Linked DNA regions of Homo sapiens. The protein of the gene in region 1 purifies or fractionates together with the protein of each later gene. This does not show direct contact. Each region holds a gene or a part of one and is shown on either strand. Other genes may lie near its edges.

Region 1 (3,438 bases):
TCCACCCAGCTTGGCCTCCCAAAGTTCTGGGATTACAGCCCTGAAGCCACGACTCCCGGCCATTATTCTATGTTTTCTGTAGTGTTGTGTTAGAATTTTTCACAAGTTAAATGTACTCTCATCCCTGGATATACAATATACACAGGGCATTGGTTCCAGGGCACCCGAAGATACCAAAATCCATGAATGCTCAAGACCAGTGGATGCAGGTTCTGCATCCCAGGAATACTGTATTTTCGATTCTATCTGAAGTTAATTGTGTTAGTGGATGCTGAACTTGCCAATATGGAGGGCTATTTAAAATAAAGGATGTATTTTAAAATTCTAAAACTTCTGTCTTACTCCAAAATTAGTATAGGAAAATTCTCTGAAGCACACCACTACTACAGTGAGCCCTTGGAAGTTACTGCCTTTACTAATCATTTCAGGACTAGCAACCTTATAAGCCATAACAGCTTTTAGGTGAAATGTCAATGTGCTGCTTTTTTGAGACAGAGCCTTGCTCTGTTGCTCAGGCTGGAGTGCAGTGGCACGATCTCTACTCACTGCAACCTCTGCCTCCAGGGTTCAAGCAATTCTCCCGCTGCAGCCTTCCAAGTAGCTGGAATTACTGGCATGCGCCACCACTGCCAGCTAATTTTTGTATTTTCAGGAGAGACAAGGTTTTACCATGTTGGCCAGGCTGGTTCTCGAACTGCTGACCTCAAGTGATCCACTGCCTTGGCCTCCCAAAGTGCTGGGATTACAGGTGTGAGCCACCACGCCTGGCCCAATGTGTTTTATATGTAAGTAAATATAGGTTATCTCTATATATGTATGTATTACATATAATACATCAACTATAATATGCTATAATAGAAGTATGTGGATTCAGCTAAATTTGTATGACCTCTTGAGAGATTTTCTGAGATAGTCCTACAATATTTTTTATTGTACATGGGTTAAATGCCAAGGACTGTGACAGGTGTCTTAGATAATTTATTCATTTATGCTTAAAACCTGAGACAGTATTATTTCCTACTTTCTGAAAAGTGAAACTCAGAGAAATTAACTTGACCAAGTACATGTAGCTAGCTAAGTGTTAGAGTTGGATGAAAACCCAATTCTGTTAGGTATTGTTAGCTCTCAGTTTGTATTTTATCTCTTTTCTCCATTGTAGTGTTGGATCAGTAAGCCCATTTTTCCCTTTTAAAATATTTGGGATACATTATTAAATATGAACAACTGAACATATCAAATATGAAAAATCTAAGTTGATTTGATATATAGAGGGCTGCATAGGATGCCGTGCGAGTGTAAAGAAGGAGCAGTACAACTTAGTGATTATCATGCCAGTGGTTATGCCAATTAGCGTAATGTTGGATAAGCATGTTCAAATTCTTGTAGACTCCGCTTTTACAGCTCTAGGCTTTTATAGCTCTAATTGAGGATAATAGCTCCTAACTTACGGAGTTGTTCTGATGGTTTAATTGAACCTGTGACTATATGGAAGATCCTTAGCATAGTGCCTGACATATAATAAATTATCCTTGAGAACATGTGTCTTGGGCTGAGTCTCTAGAAGGACCAAAACTTAGTCCTAGGGAAGAAGTGAGGGTAGGGTAATCTAAGCAGAAAGTGGTTTGTGCAGAAGAGGGAAAGCATGATACCTGTGTTTGTTTGTTTGTTTTCGTTAAGTACTTTAGGAGACTGTAGCCAGATGAAGATAATGAAATACGAAGGGTTCTGAATGGCGAGCTAAGGGTGAAAAACTTTGTCCTGACTTGTGGGGAGTTATAAACAGATTGTTATGAGGGGAAACAACATTTAATTTGTTTAAAAAGTGAAGGCCTGAGGGACAAGTTAAATGATATCAAGAAGCAATAGACATGTCAGGTGCGGTGGCTAATGCCTGTAATCCCAGCACTTTGGGAGGCCAAGGTGGGCCGATCACTTGGAGTCCAGAGTTCAAGACCAGCCTGGACAACATGGCGAAACCCTGTCTCCACTAAAGTTACAAACCTTAGCCGGGTGTGGTGGCGCACGCCTGTAGGCCCAGCTACTCAAGAGGCTGAGGCAGGAGAATCACTTGAACCCGGGAGGTGGAGGCTGCAGTGAGCCAAGATTGTGCCACTGCACTCAAGCCTGGGCCACAGAACAAGGCTCCACACACACACACAAAGCAATAGGCAAATCTTGAATTTGGGGTAGTCTAGGACAAAGGTGGAGGCAGGGAACATTATTCTAGATTGAAAAAGATTTAAAAGAACTAATAAGCAAATGCAATACATGGCTCTTGTTTGGATCCAGATTCTAATACATCTAACAGAAAGCTCCTTTGGTCGAGAAGAATTAGCTACAACTTACATGATATTCTTATAAGAAAAAGAGGTTGTTATACTTCCCATTTTACAGGTCAAAGAAATGCGATTCAAAAAAAGACACATCGATTTTCTAAAGATACACAGTCAATAGCTGAGCCAGGATTCAAACCTGGTGTCCTCTCAATAATGTTAGTGCTTACATTGTGAAATACTGCCTCCTGTAGCATGTTGCTGTGATAGCTTTTGCTTGTGCAGTCCTAGGACACTGAATTAAAACTTTAAGTTTGGGAATAATGGATAAATGGTGACTTTCTAGGGCTACTGCATATTTTCCTATTCTGCTAGTCTAAAGAGAATGTATAGTAAAAGAACTTGCTAGGTCACCAAGACAGAGCCAGTTTCACATGTCAAAACCATGCACATACTATTACTGTCACTGTCGTTGGGTTATGAGGAAAGTGAGAGGAAGAAGAAGAGTTAAGAAAGTGTCTAGGGAAAGGAGGTGAAGGGGAAAAAATACTGTATTGATGGTTAGGTGGCTTTCAAGCTTTGATGGAGGAATTTGACTTGCTTAAAATCGGGTACCTGTGGGTGTCTTGAAAGCAAGCCAGGAAGTTTTTCTGCCTCACTTTTGTTTTGAAAGTGTCAAACTTACAGAAAGATTGAAAGGGTATGCATCCTTATACTTTTTCCCTGGATTCACCCCTGTTGTTAACTTTTGCTACATTCATGTTTTCTCTATTTACACTTTTTTTTTTTTTTTTGAGACAGAGTTTCCCTCTGTCACCCAGGCTGGAGTGCGATGGTACGATCTCCACTCACCACAACCTCCTCCTCTCGGGTTCAAGCAATTCTCCTGCCTCAGCCTCCTGAGTAGCTGGGATTATAGGCATGTGCCACCACACCCAGCTAATTCTGTGTTTTTAGTAGAGACGGGGTTTCTCCATGTTATTCAGGCTGGTCTAGAACACCTGACCTCAGGTGATCTGCCCACCTTGGCCTCCCAAAGTGCTGGGATTACAGGCGTGAGCCACCGCACTCGGCTACACATTTTTTTAATTGTTGAACCTTCTGAAAGTTTCAGATGGCTTCCCGCTGTGCATCAGTATATAGATATATCTCCTAACAACAAGGG
Region 2 (4,038 bases), on another chromosome or scaffold:
CTGCAGCTGTAAATCTGATGCATCATTTCAGCCTCCTCTTCCCAAAGTGCCTGGGAACTGGAGGCCTCTGTCTCTGGACCCCTAGTCTCGAGGCATCCTAATCCAGTCCGGCTCAGGGATCATTGTACATGTATCACATATACGATATCATATATACAGATGATATATATGATATCATATAAACACATGATATATATGATATATATACACATGATATATATGATATATACACATGATATATATGATATTATATACACATGATATATATGATATATGGAACAGTATATAACCTGTGACCTCTATATGTAGCATAATAGGATTTATAAGATAATAAATATATAGGATAAATGTATTAGGATATATAGGGTAATACAAATATATATAGGGTAATACAAATATATACATATGCTATATATACATATATCATATATACAAATATATATGATATATATACATACACAAATATATATGATATATATATATACACATACATATATACATATGATATACATACATATATAATAAATATGATATACGGGACAGTATATAATCTGTAACCTGTATATGTAGCATAATAGGGTTTATATAATATATTAGGATATATAGGGTAATACAAATATAACTTTCTATAATTTGCTCCTTGAACATGGGGCACTGCCTGTTGCCATGTCTCTGTGAGCACCTAAGGGTTATACGCGGAGGTACCAAACACAGGACCCTTGAGAAATGTCAGCCTTGTCATGTAATGGCATGAGGGGAAAACACTGGAGAAACAGTCCTTTTGTTTAAAATAGAAACTTCTAAGAGAGCCAAGTTAGCACATGACAAATTACTGAATATCCCGTTCTCCTGGAGGGGAGAAAAAAAAAAAAGCCCCTTCATTTCTGAAATGAGAAAGGGAATTGCTGGTACCAAAATTCACGTTTCCTTTTTGGTGGAAATTCTCCAGCCAAGCTTGGCGCTAACAGAGTAGGCGATTTCACTTCGTCGTCACCTCACAAAAGGCTTCCAAATTCACTGCGGCAGACACCGCAAAATAAAAATGTTAAATACATCCTAGCTGGGAGGGGATTGAAGCCTCCAGGCTCAATCAAAGGTTTGCAATAATAGGATTCATTTAAAAAAAAAAAAAAAAAAAAGGACAGATGGGTTTAGAAAATGTTGCAGTGAAGACTGGAACGAGATGAGCTCATAGCACCAGCCTGTCTTTTGTGGACCCGCACAATGATCCCTGAGCCAGACTGGATTAGGATGCCTCGCGACTAGGGGTCCAGAGACAGAGGCCTCCAGTTCCCAGGCACTTCGGGAAGAGGAGGCTGAAATGATGCATCAGATTTACAGCTGCAGTGACGAGAACATAGAAGTTTTCACCACCGTGATTCCTTCCAAGGGTGAGTGAAATTGCCCTTGACTGTTTCCTTAACGTGGCATCTTAGGCAGGAGGGGAAGGACAGTCACGTGCTGCCTTACTACGGTTTATCCTCAGGTCTCTGGGGTCTGATGGACTCTCGGTTTTGATGGTATTTGATTTTTTGGAGGGGGGAAAGAGGCACAAGGATAAACATCAATCACTGAGAAACAATCCATCAAGGGGAAGGCGAGAGCAGCTAAATACTCCCTGTCTCATTTAATTCAGTACCAACAGTCCAGTACACCAATGGAAGTGACAGCAAGCCATTGCTATGCACACAGGTGAAAACAAAATCCCAGGGTAGCTAGATAGAGACTTTCATTTTTTCCAGTGAGCAAGTGGGTTCTGAAATGAGAACAGCTGGCTTAAAAGTATGATTTCTAACTGTGCCATGCAAAGTGCGGAGAAATACTCCCGGTGGCTGCTTGAAGTCCAGTGAAGCCGTCAGAGAGCGCCCTGACCCTGGGCTGGCTTCTCCACAGAACCCAGGGCCACCTTGCAAACTTAACCCGGAACTAATGCTGCCAGAGAATGCGACACGAGAGTCTTGACTTTATAAGCTCTTGTGGTCCTCAGTGAACGGTGTTAAGGGCTTTGTGTGAGGGTTCTGATGACTCCAAGTGTCTGGTTCCTGGTCAGTCCCCTCAGCCTCTCCTAAGCATGGCCCCCTCTCCTGCCGCCTCTGTTCTCTGCCTGCGCTCCTGTCTTGCCCCCTCCCATCCACCTCCATGACTCAGGCTTAGCCCCTGGTCTCATTGTCAGCCTTGAATGAAGTAGGCTGGGTGTTTGCTGGTGTTGTGAGCCCACATTCAAACAATTCCTTTCTTCCCCTGTGTCAGCCGCTGACAGGGCCATTGCACAGTGGGGCAGGGAGAGATTCCGTTTGGCCACAAAGAGACAGCCTGCAGGACATAAATTAAGCTTTAGACATTTACTGCCAGATCCAGAGAGAGGGAAAAGAGCTGGGAGTCTGCTGCCCACGTGCAGGAGTTGGAATTCCCTCTGGAAACTCTGAAAGTCCAAGTTGACCCTCGGAATCAGCAGTTTCGCTTTTGGGTGGAACTCCTCTTACCCCTGGATGTTCACGGTGGCATTGATTCTAAGAAGGCACAACTGAAAATAACCTGAGTGTCCATGAAGAGGGGAATGGTTAAAATGTGGTGCTGTCATGCTGTGGAATACTATACAATGTCAACAGGAATAAACTAGATGTATGCCTGTGAACATAGGTAGATCTAAGCATAATGCTGAGTGCCAAATAAGCAGGCTGAAAAATTATATATGTAAGATAGCATTTCTGTAAATTTGAAAATATAAACCAATACTATATATTGTTTATGGATATGTATCTAGAGAAAAATACAAAAACATAGACCAGAAAGATACAGATAAAATTAGTGATCTCAGTAGTCTTGGGAAGGTAGGGAAGGAGAATTAGGGAAGGGTAGAAAGAGAACCAAAACATTGCCTCTGATTTTGTATTTCTTGTATATGAGAAGAAAACAAAGTAGAAGGAAATATGAAAATGTTACATGTGTTTATTTTCTATCATTTACTTCCATTTACAAAATTTTTAAAGGAAGAAAAAGTCAAAACGAAGTGGTTAAGAGACTGCTGCCACTTCTGCACTGTGTGACCTTGGGCAAGCTACTTAACCTCTCTGGGCCTGAGTTTCCACTGCTGTAAATGGGAGAAACAACTTATCTTCCAGGATCATATGGGGAATAAATGAGTAAATATATAAAGCATCTAGAACAGTAGCTGGCATGTAGTAAGCACCATTAAATACATCACTTAAAAAGTGATTTCCAATTTTATTTTGTATTTAGAATAATCAACATGATCAGTCAAAGATAAATATTTAATCTTATCTTTTTTCCCTTCCCATTTTCATTCATGGCCACTTCCTTGTGGTACAAGAGTAGCTATCTTGTGAAGTTGCTGTAAAACCTTTTCCCAACCAAGTAACATGTTTAATGGTTAATTTCTTTAAGCTTTTTTATAATTGTGGCAAAATATGCATAACAAAATGTACCATTTTAAAAACTATTTTTAAGTGTACAGGTCAGTGGCATTAAGTCTATTCACATTGTTGTGCAACCATCACCCCCATCCATCCTAGCACTTCTTCATTATCCCAAACTAAAACTCTGAATCCGTTGAACACTAACTCATTCCCCCACTCTTCCAGCCACCAGTAACCACCATTCTACTTTTTGTCCTACAAATTTGGTTTTTTGTCCTTTTGTTTGTTTGTTTTTCTGTCTCTATGAATTTGACTACTCTAGGAACCCCATATTAAGAGGAATTGTAGACTATGTGACATTTTGTGTCCGGCTTATTTCACTTAGTACCATGTTTTCAAGGTTCATCCATGTGTGGCATGTATCAGAATTCCATTCCTTTTCAAGGCTGAGTAATATTCCATCACATACAGACACCATATTTTGTTTATTCATTCATCTGTTGGTGGACATTTGGGTTGTTCCCAAACTTCAGCTCTTGTGAGTAATGCAGCTATGAACTTTGTACTCAAGCCAAGTAACATCTTCAATCGCAACGACCCTGTCTCTTTTTCCCGTCCCCTCCTCTATGCCCCTGCCTCGCCACAGATTCAAACCTTCTCA

What was found. The genes of interacting proteins can lie anywhere in the genome.
Region 2: the proteins of TRIM61 (region 1) and VXN purify together in Homo sapiens (affinity purification with mass spectrometry; one large-scale study listed by BioGRID and IntAct). This does not show direct contact.

The regions. Positions count from the first base shown.
Region 1 is NC_000004.12:164,971,220-164,974,657, reverse strand, and holds part of TRIM61 (putative tripartite motif-containing protein 61), read left to right. Parts: intron 1-3,438.
Region 2 is NC_000008.11:66,492,328-66,496,365, forward strand, and holds the start of VXN (vexin), read left to right. Parts: upstream 1-1,238; 5' UTR 1,239-1,321; coding exon 1,322-1,391; intron 1,392-4,038. UniProt on the Homo sapiens protein: Required for neurogenesis in the neural plate and retina. Strongly cooperates with neural bHLH factors to promote neurogenesis.